4 linked regions of the Homo sapiens genome follow. The protein of the gene in region 1 interacts with the protein of each later gene in a biochemical or structural test. Each region holds a gene or a part of one and is shown in the gene's direction. Other genes may lie near its edges.

What was found. The genes of interacting proteins can lie anywhere in the genome.
Region 2: the proteins of GRID2IP (region 1) and SLC15A2 interact in a test that uses a peptide from one of them, tested with the Homo sapiens proteins (one large-scale study listed by IntAct).
Region 3: the proteins of GRID2IP (region 1) and TRPC5 interact in a test that uses a peptide from one of them, tested with the Homo sapiens proteins (one large-scale study listed by IntAct).
Region 4: the proteins of GRID2IP (region 1) and SLC6A3 interact in a test that uses a peptide from one of them, tested with the Homo sapiens proteins (one large-scale study listed by IntAct).

Annotation. Positions count from the first base shown.
Region 1 is NC_000007.14:6,544,962-6,548,461, reverse strand, and holds part of GRID2IP (delphilin), read left to right. Parts: intron 1-3,500.
Region 2 is NC_000003.12:121,897,401-121,900,900, forward strand, and holds part of SLC15A2 (solute carrier family 15 member 2), read left to right. Parts: coding exon 1-129; intron 130-3,500. UniProt on the Homo sapiens protein: Proton-coupled amino-acid transporter that transports oligopeptides of 2 to 4 amino acids with a preference for dipeptides. Transports neutral and anionic dipeptides with a proton to peptide stoichiometry of 2:1 or 3:1.
Region 3 is NC_000023.11:111,915,277-111,918,776, reverse strand, and holds part of TRPC5 (short transient receptor potential channel 5), read left to right. Parts: intron 1-3,500. UniProt on the Homo sapiens protein: Forms a receptor-activated non-selective calcium permeant cation channel. Mediates calcium-dependent phosphatidylserine externalization and apoptosis in neurons via its association with PLSCR1.
Region 4 is NC_000005.10:1,417,941-1,421,440, reverse strand, and holds part of SLC6A3 (sodium-dependent dopamine transporter), read left to right. Parts: intron 1-737; coding exon 738-872; intron 873-3,500. UniProt on the Homo sapiens protein: Mediates sodium- and chloride-dependent transport of dopamine. Also mediates sodium- and chloride-dependent transport of norepinephrine (also known as noradrenaline). Regulator of light-dependent retinal hyaloid vessel regression, downstream of OPN5 signaling.

The DNA of each region.
Region 1 (3,500 bases):
CAATGTGAAATAAGCATGTCATGGAGAATGGGGTACCCATCCCCTCAAGCATTTATCTTTTGAGTTATAAACAATCCATCTACACCGTTTAAGTTTGTATTTATTTTTTTTGGAGCCAGAGTCTCGCTCTGTTGCCCAGGGAATACAGTGGTACGATCTCGGCTCACTGCAACCTCCGCCTCCCGGGTTTAAGCAATTCTCCTGGCTCAGCCTCCCAAGGAGCTGGGATTACAGGCCCCCACCACCATGCCTGGCTAATTTTTGTATTTATAGTAGAGACACGGTTTCACTATGTTGTCCAGGCTGGTCTTGAACTCCTGACCTCAGGAGATCTGCCTACCTCGGCCTTCCAAAAGTGCTGGAATTACAGGTGTGAGCTACTGCACCTGGCCTAAGTTATTTTAAAATGGACAATTAAGTTATTATTGGCTATAGTCACCCTGTTGTGTTATCAAGCTCACAGACTTTTCCTCCGTGGAAGGGAATCTGCTCAGTTCTGCCCCAGCAGCACTTGGCCATGGGGTTTGGGAGGTCAGGGAGCCTGGAAACTTTGTCGGAGTTTGACTATTGCAGAAATGCCTCCCAGCCCACTGCCCAGGCATCAGGTCCCCACCCACTCTGGCCTCCTTCAGTGCCCAAGCTTGGTCCAGTCCTAACCCCTTCCAAATTAACCCCCTCAGGAGTGTCTCCTCCATCATGTACCCTAGCCTGATCCCCTGAATGGGCTTTTCTGACCCTGAGTAGACCAGCCTCTGTGGCCAGATACACACACTCGCATACACACAGGACTCAACTCCAGCTTCCCTACATCACCAAAGTCCAGATCTTCCAAAGCTGTGACTTTCTTCCTGTACCCACAACAGGCTCTGCTGCTATAACAAACAAACCCAACATTTTTTATTGTTGTTGTTTTTGAGACAGGGTCTAGCTCTGTTGCCCAGATTGGAGTGCAGTGGTACAATCATAGCTCACTACAGCCTCCAACTCCTGGGCTCAAGTGATCCTCCTGCCTCAGCCTCTCTAGTAGCTGGGACCACAGGTGTGCACCACCACACCTGGCTGATTAAGAAAAAAAAAAAAGACTGGGGAGATGAGGTCTTGCTATGTTGCCCAGGCTAGTCTCAAACTCCTGGCCTCAAGCAATTCTCCTGCCTCAGCCTCCCAAAGTGCTGGGATTATAGGTGTGAGCCACTGTGCCTGACCCAAAATCAACAACTTAGTGCGTTTGCACTACAGAAGTTTACTTTTCACCCACAGAGTCCTCTAGGGGGTCAGTAGACTTTCTAGGGTGGCTTGATGTCCATACGAGGTCTCAGCATTTCAGACTCCTCCATCTCTATGTGAAGCTTCAGGGTTCCCTATGGAAGAGGAAGAGAGCTTGGAAAATTGTGCATCTCCTCTTAGAACAGCACCTGTCCTCAATGCTCATTGGGCAGAACTAGGTACACTGCTCCTCCCTAAGGATGCTGGGAAATGTAGTCTAATGTGTGTCCAGGAAAGAGGGAAGACCTAGAAATATTGGTGAGTGCGAGTAATGCCTGCTACAATCCCAGATCACCTGCCATGGAGCCAAAGGTCTATCCCAGACTCCATCTAATCCCTGCAGAGTTGGAAGGGGGCACGTTCAGAGCTCCAAACAGGGCAGGATGCAAGAGAAGACCTGCCCAGGAGCAGGGCTGGGCAGCAACCCGCTGAGGGTAGAATCCGACAGGCTGCCCAGGCCAGCTGCAGTGTGTTTTCTGGCAAGGAGGAACGGGGAAGTGGAGGATTTTGGTTAGGGCTCGCTGGGCACCCACAAAAGCTGAGAGTGAATCTCCAAAAATGACTTCCTCTGGAAGATGAAGGGCCTCCGTGGAGCCCAGTTGGTTTTCTATCTTTTTTTTTTTTTTTTTGAGACAGAGTTTCGCTCTTGTTGCCCAGGCTGGAGTGCAATGGCGTGATCTTGGCTCACTGCAACCTCCGCCTCCTGGGTTCAAGCAATTCTCCTGCCTCAGCCTCCCAAGAAGCTGGGATTACAGGCATGTACCACCACGCCCGGCTAATTTTGTATTTTTTTTAGTAGAGACAGGCCAGGCTTGGTGGCTTGGCTGGGCACGGTGGCTCACACCTGTAATCCCAGCACTTTGGGAGGCCGAGGCAGGCAGGTCACCTGAGGTCAGGAGTTCAAGTAGAGATGGGGTTTCACCATGTTGGTCAAGCTAGTCGCAAACTCCTGACCTCAGGTGATCCACCTGCCTCTGCCTTCCAAAGTGCTGGGATTACAGGCATGAGCCACTGCGCCAGACTGGTTGGTTTTCAATCACCAGCCCTCCAGTTCTCGCCTGCGCTTTCTGCCTGCCCCAGTTTTTCCTCCTTGAAGTGGCTGATATTTAATAGAAAATCCATTAGTGTCCCGTGATGATACCTCATGCTTAGATGTAGGCTGAGAACATCTGGGTAATAACTGACACCGAAACCGCACTGTAGCACGGGCCCCAGGAGGGAGGAACTATTTTTTCCTCTTTCTTACATAAAACATCTCTGCAGCCAGCCATGTTCTCCTTTGAATTGAGGTTGCTGCTGACTTTGATTTCCAAACTGGCAACCTTCCCCAGCACGGCGCGTGCGTGGGGAGGGGGCGGCTGGTGCTGCCAGCCTGGCCCACTCACAGGGAGGGAAACAGTGGTGAGCTGGGGCCTGCAGGAAGTGCAATGCAAGGCTGCTTTTTGATTCAGTCCCATCCACATTCTCTGAGTGCCTAATATGTGCCAGGCGCTGTGCTTGGGGCTGGACAAGCATGAGACCCCGGATCATCACACCTGGGTGGGGGAGACAGACGGTTACACAGACTCATGGTGCATCTGTGCTAGGATTCAGACGTGTACAGAACGTGGCCTCTGACTGGAAACCCTCGAAGCTTCCCGCTACTTCTCCTCCCCTTTTGGAATCATCTAGAAAGCGGGTGGATATACAGTTCCAGAGTTCAAGAGCGAGCTCTCGGCTGAAGATCGAGGTCTGAGAGTCACTGTCTGGGGTTCTTCGCCAGAGCTGGGTCGTGGAGAGCCTCAAGTGCAATAGTGAACTGCAGTGGCAAAGGGCAGTGGTACAGAAACAGCACGTGTAGACGGCTCCAGACTACAGAAGGGAGGAGAATGAGCAGCTTTCAGGATCAAAGGAGGATTGTCTTTTATTTATTTATTTATGGAGACAGGGTCTTGATCTGTCACCCAGGCTGGAGCTCAGTGGTGTGATCATGGCTTACTGCAGCCTTGATTTCCCGGGCACAAGAGATCCTCCTACCTCGGCCTCCCAAGTATCTGGTAGCTGGGAATACAAGCGTGCACCACCATATCTGGCTAACTTTTTACTTTTTCTTTTCTTTCTTTTTTTTCTTTTGAGATGGAGTCTGTCTCTGTCACCCAGGCTGGAGTGCAGTGGCGCGATCTCGGCTTACTGCAAGCTCCGCCTCCCGGGTTCACACCATTCTCCTGCCTCAGCCTCCCGAGTAGCTGGGACTACAG
Region 2 (3,500 bases), on another chromosome or scaffold:
GTATTTCCTGTATTTCCTGCACTGGAATGAAGATACCTCCACATCTATATACCATGCCTTCAGCAGCCTCTGTTATTTTACTCCCATCCTGGGAGCAGCCATTGCTGACTCGTGGTTGGGAAAATTCAAGTAAGGAAGATGGGAGGTCACATCCCTACAAGTTTCACAGGTTGTGCAGAAGGCTATCACTTCTAGCCTCTTGCTTCTGAGTAAGAACATACCTATGTCATGCGTGAAAAATAAGAATCTCTGTACATCTGTGTAGTGTGGGAAATTTAAAAAAAAAGAATCTCTGTGGTAACAAGGAAAGGCTATTCTTTTCATTATCAATTTTTCCAATGTGTTTACATCCTCTTCAGTTGCGGTATCTTTTGTTCCTTAAAACTAATTTTAACCTTCCATTCCATAGTTTAATATTAAATCTTGCTCTGATCTTGTTGGAGATAGACAGCACTATCCACCAGCAAATTTCTAATTTTAGCCAGGTGCGGTGGCTCACGCCTGTAATCCCAGCACTTTGGGAGGCCGAGGCGGGCAGATTGCCTGAGGTGAGGAGTTTGAGACTAGCCTGGCTAACATGGTGAAACCCCGTCTCTACTAAAAATACAAAAATTGGCCAGGCATGGTGGCGGGCACCTGTAATCCCAGCTACTTGGGAGGCTGAGGCAGGAGAGTTGCTTGAATATGGGAGGCAGAGGTTGCAGTGAGCCAAGATCATGCCACTGCACTCCAGCCTGGGCAACAGAAAAAGACTCTGTCTCAAAAAAAAAAAAAAATTGAAATTTTGATGCTTTTATGTAGTTATTTGATACTTTCTCCATCTCTTCTCCAGATTGAGTTATCCCACCTCCTTTAGGATCTTCTTATGAGTGTCTCTTTTCAGCTCTTTTACCATCTATTTCTCTTCTCTAATGTCTTTTGTAGTTTCCTTCTTATGAATCTAATATTTTCATGAGTTAGACTATTGGTTCATTCAGTTCAGTATCTTTTAAGTCCCTGAACACAGCACCAAGAGATATAACATGGTATAATGTTATAATTGTCCCCTATAACATTAAACTGATAAGCTTAGAAATGGATCGTGGTTATCCCCTGCCCAATTATTTTCTATGGACCTGTCATCCATAGATTTGTCTAAATGAGCATTTCTCAAAGGGCATTCTGTTCAAAACTATAAAATATAATAAGTTATGTGGGAAAATAAAGCTCTTGTGGTCAAACAAGTTTGGAAACTGTTAGGCTGAGCAAAGCTAAAAATGTTCCCTTACTGCATGACTTCTTATAGCCTTAAATACGCTAATATGAACTATAAAATCTCCATAGAAGGTTGTAGTATGTAGTGTTTCCCAAACCAGTTTGACTATGGAATATTTTTTCTGGATATTTTGTGGACCCAGTGTTCCAAGGAATTCTCTTTAGTAAACAATGGTTTATAGCTTACTTTGGCCGATATATGTTCATTATTCTATAAGTGTTTAATCAGCACCTAATATATATCTATAGACATAACACAGTACTGAACAGTTTCTTGACTTGGGAGAGGAATGGTGGGTGAGTAGCTGAGATCTACATTTGCTACATATGTAGTAGTAGTCACCAAGTTTATCTAGATAGGAGATTGGCACTACTTGCAGAATAAAAAGTGCAAGCCATAATCTATTTATTCAGTTGTAGAATAAAGATTCATATACATGACATACCACTTTTATTTATTTTAAAAATAACTTCCTTTAAGATTGAAGAAGTACAGTTACAGGATTTGGTGAGCAATTGTTTCCTGGTTAATTCAGAGAAAATTTAACAACCTCTACTTGTGCTCTCAAATCAATCCTTCTTGATGTATTTATTATTGTTTTTAATTTATTTTTATTGGGATATAACTTACATAAAGTACACAAATTCAAAAGCCTTAACTGTACACCTTGATCAGTTTTTATGTATGTATCACCATCACCTAGATCACTCTCCCTAGGGTCTCTGTACCCTCACTATTCCCCTCTCTTGCCTTCAAATTCTCCCAGAGAACCAGAGTCTTTTCCTTCAACTAGAAGCAGGAGCAAATCTTTAATAGCTTTAAATGAACAAAACTCATCTTGACTCTCTTTTCCTATCATTTTTCTCCTTTTACATTAACCCCATATTATAAAAATAATCCTCTGTATGTGTTGCCTTTCTCACTCTTCATTATCAGTTCTTATGGTAGAGTAATATAATATAATGCAATATAATCCAATTCAATTTAATTTGATTTGACCCAATTTAATTCAATAAATGTTTATTGAGCACCTTCTGTTTGTCCAAGGAACCATGGAGGATGAAGAGGTGAATTACACATACTACCTAATTCATATTGTTCATATTCAAATAGCTTTAATACAGATCATATTGTAGTACAATAAGATATACTGTAAATCATCTTTTTTCCTTCTGAAATTACTCCCTAAGATCACTGGTAAGAATTTCTTCATTAGCAAATTCCAGTGGTCTTTTCTAAATTCTTACTCATTTTGAACTTGTTGTTAACATTTCAGTCTGTTTATCATTTCTGTGAAACTCCCTGGCCTTCTCTACAGTATATTTTTCTCACTCTCGTCCTCTTATATCTTTTCTTACTTATCTGGCTTCTCTTTTGCCTCTTGTTTACTTCACTCTTTCCTGAGTGTAAGCATTTTCCCAGGTTATAACTTTTACCCTCTTCTCTTTCTCTAGATTCTTCCTTAGCAAATTCTGTGGTGTGGATATTAGCTATATGCAGATGGCTCCTCAAATTCCAGTGAATTACATATTGGCATTCACCTCCACAAATCTGTTCTTTCTTCTGTCTTCTCTACATTCCCACCTTCAATCAGTTATCAAATTCTACCAATTCTGCTTGCCACAATCTCTCTCACATTTATCCCTTTTCAGCACAACATCCACTGCATTAGTTGCCATCACCCAGTTTTGGTCTTCATTGTCTCAATGTCTTTAAATTGAGATATTAAAATGGACATCTAAAATGTTTTTACTGCTTCCCATCTCTTTTTCCTACAATTGAGCATATATGCTACTGCCAAATTAATTTTCCTAAAAGAAATCCTGATCACATTACTACTCTGCTCAGCAATTTCTGGTGACTATTAAATCACTGTCTACTAATCTCACTCCAACTGACTTTTCTGTGCTTACTGTCATACTTATCTCCTTTCGAGAATGGCCACTAGAGGAAAATGTAATACTAATATTTCTGTAATCATATCCAATGACATCTCTTTTTCATGTCTGTTTGCATTGTTTCTGCTTCATGGAAACCCCTTCTTCCCCACCCTTTCATGTCCAAACCCCGTAAGGCTCACTCAAATACCACCTATGCTATGGAGTATTCTCTGCCCCCTCACCTTTTACTATAGCTGGAAGTAATATAGTGTTTTCTGAGTTCTTTGTTTTCTCACCCTTATATGACATTTACTAAACTCTATCTTATTATAGTTATTTAATTATTTATATATGAATCTGATATC
Region 3 (3,500 bases), on another chromosome or scaffold:
CTACTCTCTGTCCACAGTCTCCCATCCTCCCAGTTTGCCTACTCTGTCTTTTCACTTCAAAGAGACCTCAAGTCCCTCAATGTCTCCATTTCCTCCCAGACTTTTAGCCCTTACCTATCTGATCTGGTCTTCAAGTGCAATCACCTGAACTACTTCATCCTCAACTTCTTCTCACGTCTGGCAAAACCACAATCCTGAATCTATCCAAAACCTGAATTTTCCATCCCCACATCTGGACTGTCAAAGCTGCTAGAGAGAAAAAAAAAAGCCACATTCTTCTGTGCATCACTGCCATTATAAATTTACAGCTGCTAATTTACCCAAGACTTCAGGACTGCTAGGCCATCCTTTTACTTTCCTTTGTCTTCCTCTTTCTTTCCCCTTAGCAAATCTTCCATACATTGAACTCTCCCCACACACCCTGCCAACTTCTCCTCCCTCACTCAAAGCATCTGATCTCACCTCCCATTTCAATGAGAAAACTGCATTTTTAGATGGGAAATACTTCAGCTTCCAGCCCTCTTCAATAACAAACTACTAACACCTCCATTCAACTCACCTTTTTTCCTCCAGTCTCTGAGGATAAGGCATCCTTATTCCAGACTAAGATCAACCTCCACCTCACCCCAACCTTTGCTCTGGACCTCATCTCTCCTCATCTCTTCAGGCACCCTGATCTACCCACAAGCCCCCTCTTTCCCTTGTCTACAGCCTCTTCCCTCCTCCCCGGGTCCTCCCCCAATCTAATCAAGGTGCTCAAGATGCAGCCTCATCTCTTCACAGCCACATTTCATTAAAGAGGCTTGGGATATTAGGCCAGAAACTCAGACAAGGGTGAAGCCTTGTTTTAAAAGCTAGGGCACAGGTGCAGAAGAAGCTGCAATTCAGAAACTAACAGAACAAGAATGTCCCATTGCAAAAGCCTCAACAGTAGGAATTTGGAATGATGGAACCTGAGGCAGGCCTCCTGAGTGCTTCTTATTTCAGGCCTTGGTTGCCCTGGAAACTGGGGCTGGACAGAGTCCTTGGAGTAGATAGGTGGAGCCACTTGTGAGGAAACAAGGGCAGGCAGAGGCTGATCCTGTCCACTCTTGGTTTCAACTACTATTGCTGGCTGAAGGCTCTCACATCTATATTTTCAGCCCTGACTTCTCCTTCAAGATTCATGCTGGAGTTATACAATTTCCTGCTGCTTTCCCAGTAGGGACTTCAAAGTTAACAAGCACAAAACTGAACTTTTAAAAACCTTAAACCTGCTCCTGTATGCACTATCTCAATTAGTGACACTACTGTTCAACCAGGCATTGGAATATGGAGACTCAATACCCTTGATTTCTTCTCCCTGCCTTCCCTGACACATCCAATGAATGCCTTAAATTTGTTATTTTTTATCTATCTCTAGAATCACTATCTAATTTAAGATCCTTGCATCTATTCACCTGAACTGATGATATCTTTTAATTAGTCTTATTCTGAAACACATGGTGGTGTGCTTGGAGCTGGCTTGCACCAGCTGGCGAGAGCGGGTTATCTGCTCCTCTTCCCAACTCCATGTTCCAGGATGTCATATTGGTAGCATGAAACTGGCCACAGTGGGAGTATTTACACCACAAAAACTGGCAAACACACAAAACAGGATATTTTTTCCTCCCCTGTGGAGAGCTGGTTGTTAAACATTTATGAGCATGATTACCACTGCCCATTTCCCACACTGTGGCCAAGCTAATCAACTATGCCACTCTCCTGATTAAAACCCTCAGTGGTTCCCCGTGGTCAACAGATAACATATAAATTCCTTAGCATGGCATATGAGGCCTTTTATCATTTGGCCCTTGCCTAAATATCCAATTTCTTCTCCCATCTCTTTTTAGTCTCACAACTTATGTGCTAGCACGAAGGTCACAAACTGGTTCACTGGAGCCAAATTTGTTTCACATATGTATTTTGCTTGGCCTGCACACTGTCTTTAAAATTTTTGAGCCAACGTTTATAACTTTAAGAGCTTCTACCCCCAAATCCATGTTTCCGGCTTCTTTTCAAAAATTTATAACACTGCTCCTCACTTGTGTTTATGACAATTTACAGGAGCTGAGTAGTAGCTGCCCCCTTTGAGAGGGTCTCTGCAGTTTACCAGTTTCTATCATTCACTCGCCCAAATTATGCGTATACACCTACACCTGGTCCTGATTTCTGTTACCTGTTTGGCCTGCATTTTAGATAGATTATTATCAGAATCTTCTAACCCTCATTATAGAACTTTCTCTTCCTTTACTTTGGCTGTCCTGATGATAGTCCGTGGTCTCTGCACAGCCTGGGAAGGAATAAAAACAGCAAGATGATGAAGGAGGACAAAGCAGAAGGGGTAGAAGGAATAAAAAGAAACCCGTAGTCTATGGATCAGTCCCCACTTTGAAGCAATAGAATTGTGAAAAATACAGGCAGAAATGTCCCAAGTTTGTGAGACCTCGTAGTAGTTCCCTGCAGAGCTAATCATCTAACCCTTCTTGGAGTCTTGGGATGTCTGCCTTCTCAGCTGGACATGGGAAGGAGAGGTCCAAGGAAATTAGCTCATATTGACCCAAATTGTGGGAGTCAGGTTTATAAACAATAGAGTCAATTTCTCTTTTCTTTTCTTTACTTTTTTATTGGAGACAGGGTATCACTCTGTTGCCCAGGCTGGATGGAGTGCAGTGGCATGATCACAGCTCACTGCAGCCTCGACCTCCCAGGCTCAAGCAATCCTCCCATCTTAACCTCCCTACTAGCTGGGACTACAGGTGCTTGCCATCACACCTAGCTAATATAATGTTTTTGTTTGTTTGTTTGTTTGTTTTTTAGAGACAGAGTCTCACTATGTTGCCCAGGCTGGTCTTGAACTCCTGGGCTCAGATGATCCTCTCACCTCAGCCTCCCAAAGTGTTGGGATTACAGGCATGAGCCACCACGCCTGGCCCAAGAGAGTCAATTCCTTAATGTGAAAACAGGAAATTTAATTTATTTTTGCTGAGTGCCTGCTGTGTGTCTAGCACTGTGCTAGATGCCATAGGGGAAACAAGAGCAGACCAGGACAACTCTGCCTTCAAAGAGCTCATAACCTTATCAAGGAGGCAAAAAGTACGTGTGTGAAGTAATTTGAGAATAATGTAAGACAGCATCAGAAAAGTGATTTTCTTGCATGTAACCTTGTGCCCACAGTATTTGAGCGGGCAGCAAGAGATAAGCTCAAAGTTAAGAGGAGGAGCTATTGAAGAAGCCAGAACTTGCAATGGCCCCTGAGTGGCAGAGAAATGGGGCGAGAGACCATTCCACACAGGGGATCCACAAGGATATACACACAGAAAGCAACCTGTGAGTGACAACACTGATAGGAGGAGAAAAAGCAGTCTGGGCGGGAGGGCAAGGTTGGTCACTGTAGACCAGTTTTCTTTTTAAAAGGTTTCCTCTCTGGTGTTAGGTACTCAGGAAGCCGAATGGAGAATAATAAAGTTCCTTGTTAGACA
Region 4 (3,500 bases), on another chromosome or scaffold:
CTTTGGGAGGCTGAGACGGGCAGATCACCTGAGGTCAGGGGTTCAAGAACAGCCTGGCCAACATGATGAAACCCCATCTCTACTAAAAATACGAAATTAGCCAGGCACGGTGGCACGTGCCTATAATCCCAGCTACGTGGGAGGCTGAGGCAGGAGAATTGCTTGAACCCAGGAGGCGGAGGTTGCAGTGAGCCAAGATCATGCCACTGCACTCCAGCCTGGGCAAAAAGAGCAAAACTCCATCTCAAAAAAAAAAAAAAAACTTTGGTTGTTATATGGGCCAAAACCAGTTTTGACCAAGATACGACTCCTCCCTTGGAAAAGTGCGTGTAGTATGGCACCAGCCACGGGAGCCTCCCGCAGGGACACAGCCCAGAGCAGCCCTTCATCGTGCCACAGTGCCGTTCACCAGTGTGAATCCACTCACGTCCCACGCATCAGAAAACCCCCATCAGCCACTCCCAGCTACTCTGGCGGACCGAATGCAGAAAAGGAATGTGCTTTCCCTGCCAAGTTGTTCTTCCCTTTCCATCCCTGGGGAGGGTGTGCAGGACAGAAAGTGTCTGACCTTCTCACTCCAAGGAGCATTTGCTGAGCTGGCGTCCCAGGAAATGTTTGGGAATTGGGCCTCCCAATCAGAGGACAAGCCGTCAGGGCAACCCGGTGCCCTTGTGCCAGTGTCTGCTCCCACCAAGGGCCCTGCCTGTGCAGCCTGGTGACACTGTCCTCTCCTGCAGGTGGTATGGATCACAGCCACCATGCCATACGTGGTCCTCACTGCCCTGCTCCTGCGTGGGGTCACCCTCCCTGGAGCCATAGACGGCATCAGAGCATACCTGAGCGTTGACTTCTACCGGCTCTGCGAGGCGTCTGTGAGTACAGTCTGCTCACTGCTTCACAGTCCACAGGGGCTCTGGCATTCCCAGGTTTCCATATGCATTGCCTGCCAGGGCTGAGAGGTGTCAGAGTTGCAGACACCAGGGTTCTTTCCTCGGGAAGCCAAATCCCAAGTACCTGTGATACAGCACGAGTCATCTAAATCAAATTACATCAGAAACTCCATCTAGACTCAGGCTGCAGCTTTGGTCAGCAAAAGAAGACATAATTCAGGGTTAAAATATTTGGAGAAAGCCTCCCGGAGAGAGGAGACTCAGCTGGGCCATGGGGGATGGGACCCTTGTCCAGAAAGGGAGGAGAAAGGGCTGCACCCTTCCTGGCAAACAGGCCCAGAAACAGAAGCAGCTGTTGGCGGAAGGCTGGCATGACAAAAATGGCAGCTCCCTTGGGGCATCGTTGGAAATCAGGTGGACTAAGTGGGGGAGGTGGCAGGCCCCAAAGCCGCCCAGGGGCATCCATGTTGCTGTGGGAGGACAATGCAGCAAGAGGGGAAGGGCCATCTCAGCTGGGGTATGAGGCAGGAGGCCGTTGAGAGGTGCTGCCCTGTGTGGGTGGGCCGGTGGAGCCAGGTCTGGGGGTCATGAGGCAAGTGTAAACCCAAGGCAGAAGTGGGAAGGAAGGGGAGAAGGGATGGGCGGGCATGGCTGCAAGCCTCCCAGGAAGCCCCAGGGAGGCAGCAGCTGACAGGTGCAGTGAGAGAGGGCACCTGGACATGGCACCTATGAGGCTGCAAAGCAGTTGGGTGGGGGTGGGGGTGGAAGTGTGCCTGCAGCACTGAAGGGGAAGCCCTGTGGAGACAGGAGCCATGGGTGCAGCAGGCGTGTGGCCCACGGGAGCCAAGGAAGAGAGAGGAGGACAACCAGGGCAGCAAAATCAGCTGTGGCCGGGGGCCCACAAGTGCAGAGCTGGAGCCAGACAAACCATGAAGTCAGCAGGGCGTCTGGACCCCAGAAAGGCCAAAATGAAGCCAAGGGGTGTGTTTGCAGGACCATGGCATGTTACAGAATCAAAGAAAAATACCACAAGGACAACGTAGAGCCTAGTGCTCCAGCTAGGAAGAATAGGCAGCCCCAGGAGGAGGCAAAACAAACACCAGTGCATGTGAAAAGATGCTCACTGGAGAACAAATTACAAAGATGAGATGTCAGAAATTAGGTGGAGACAGTGAATAGATTGGATGGATGGATGGATGGATGGATGGATGGATGGATGGATGGATGAATGCTAGGTAAGTAGGTGGATAGGATGGATGGATGATAGGTGGGTAGATAGAATGGATAGATAGGATGGGTGGATGGAAGGCTGGCTGGCTGGATGTATGGATAATGGATGGGTGGATGGAGGAATGGATGATAGGTAGGTAGCTGGATAGTATGGATGGATGGATGATGGATGGATGGATGGATGGATGAATGGATGATGCATGGGTGAATGGGTGGATGAATGATAGGTAGCTAGATAGGATGGACAGATGGATAATGGATGGATGATGGATGGGATGGATGGGTGGATGGATGATGGGTGGATTGCTGGATGATGGATGGCTGGGTGGATGGATGAATGATAGGTAGGTAGCTGGATAGCATGGATGGATGGATGGATGGATGATGAATGGATGATGGATGGGTGAATGGGTGGATGAATGATAGGTAGGTAGCTAGATAGGATGGATGGATGGATGGATAATGGATGGATGACGGGTGGGTGGATGGATGATGGGTGGATTGCTGGATGATGGATGTTTGGGTGGATGGATGAATGATAGGTAGGTAGCTGGACAGCATGGATGGATGGATGGATGATGGATGGGTGGGTGGATGGATGGATGGATGGATGATGGGTGGATTGGTGGATGATGGACAGATGGGTGGATGGATGAATGATAGGTAGCTGGATAGCATGGATGGATGGATCGATGATGGATGGGTGGATGGATGGATGATGGATGGGTGGATGGATGGATGATAGGTAGGTAGATAGGATGGATATACAATAGGATGGATGGAGATAGATACATACACACACATGTACTTCATATATTCATAGATGATAGACAGTTGATAGATTATAGAGATGACAGATAGATGATAGATTGGTGATGGATTGATAGATGACAGTGATAGATGATAGATAGATAGATGATTGATTGATAGATAATAGATGATGGATTGATGTATAGTGAAGAGAAATCAGGAAAGAAATGGAAGGAAAGGACAATTGCAGGTCCTGGAGTGAAAGTGCATGAGGTGAGGCCCAGGGAGGCAGCCATGGGCACTGGCTCTGGTGTGGCACTGGGCAGAGGCCTGAGCTGCACACACAGATCAGGGTGAGGAGGAGGCAGGCGCTCCCCTGTGACACCTGATCCAGCCTGCAGCTACCTGGCCAGGCAGGTGGCTGATGACCAGCATGGGAGCCACATCAGGGTATGAGCCTCTCCACCCACTGCCCACCCAGCCACTCTCGGCTTGGCTCCTCCCCTCATGCTGAAACACTGGCCACCTGCAGAGTCCTGACTGCGGGGCCTGGCCATCTGCCTCCAAACACACTGTCCCAGGAACTGGGGTTGCCTTGAGGCTCTGACATGCTGCCCAAAGGACAGAGGG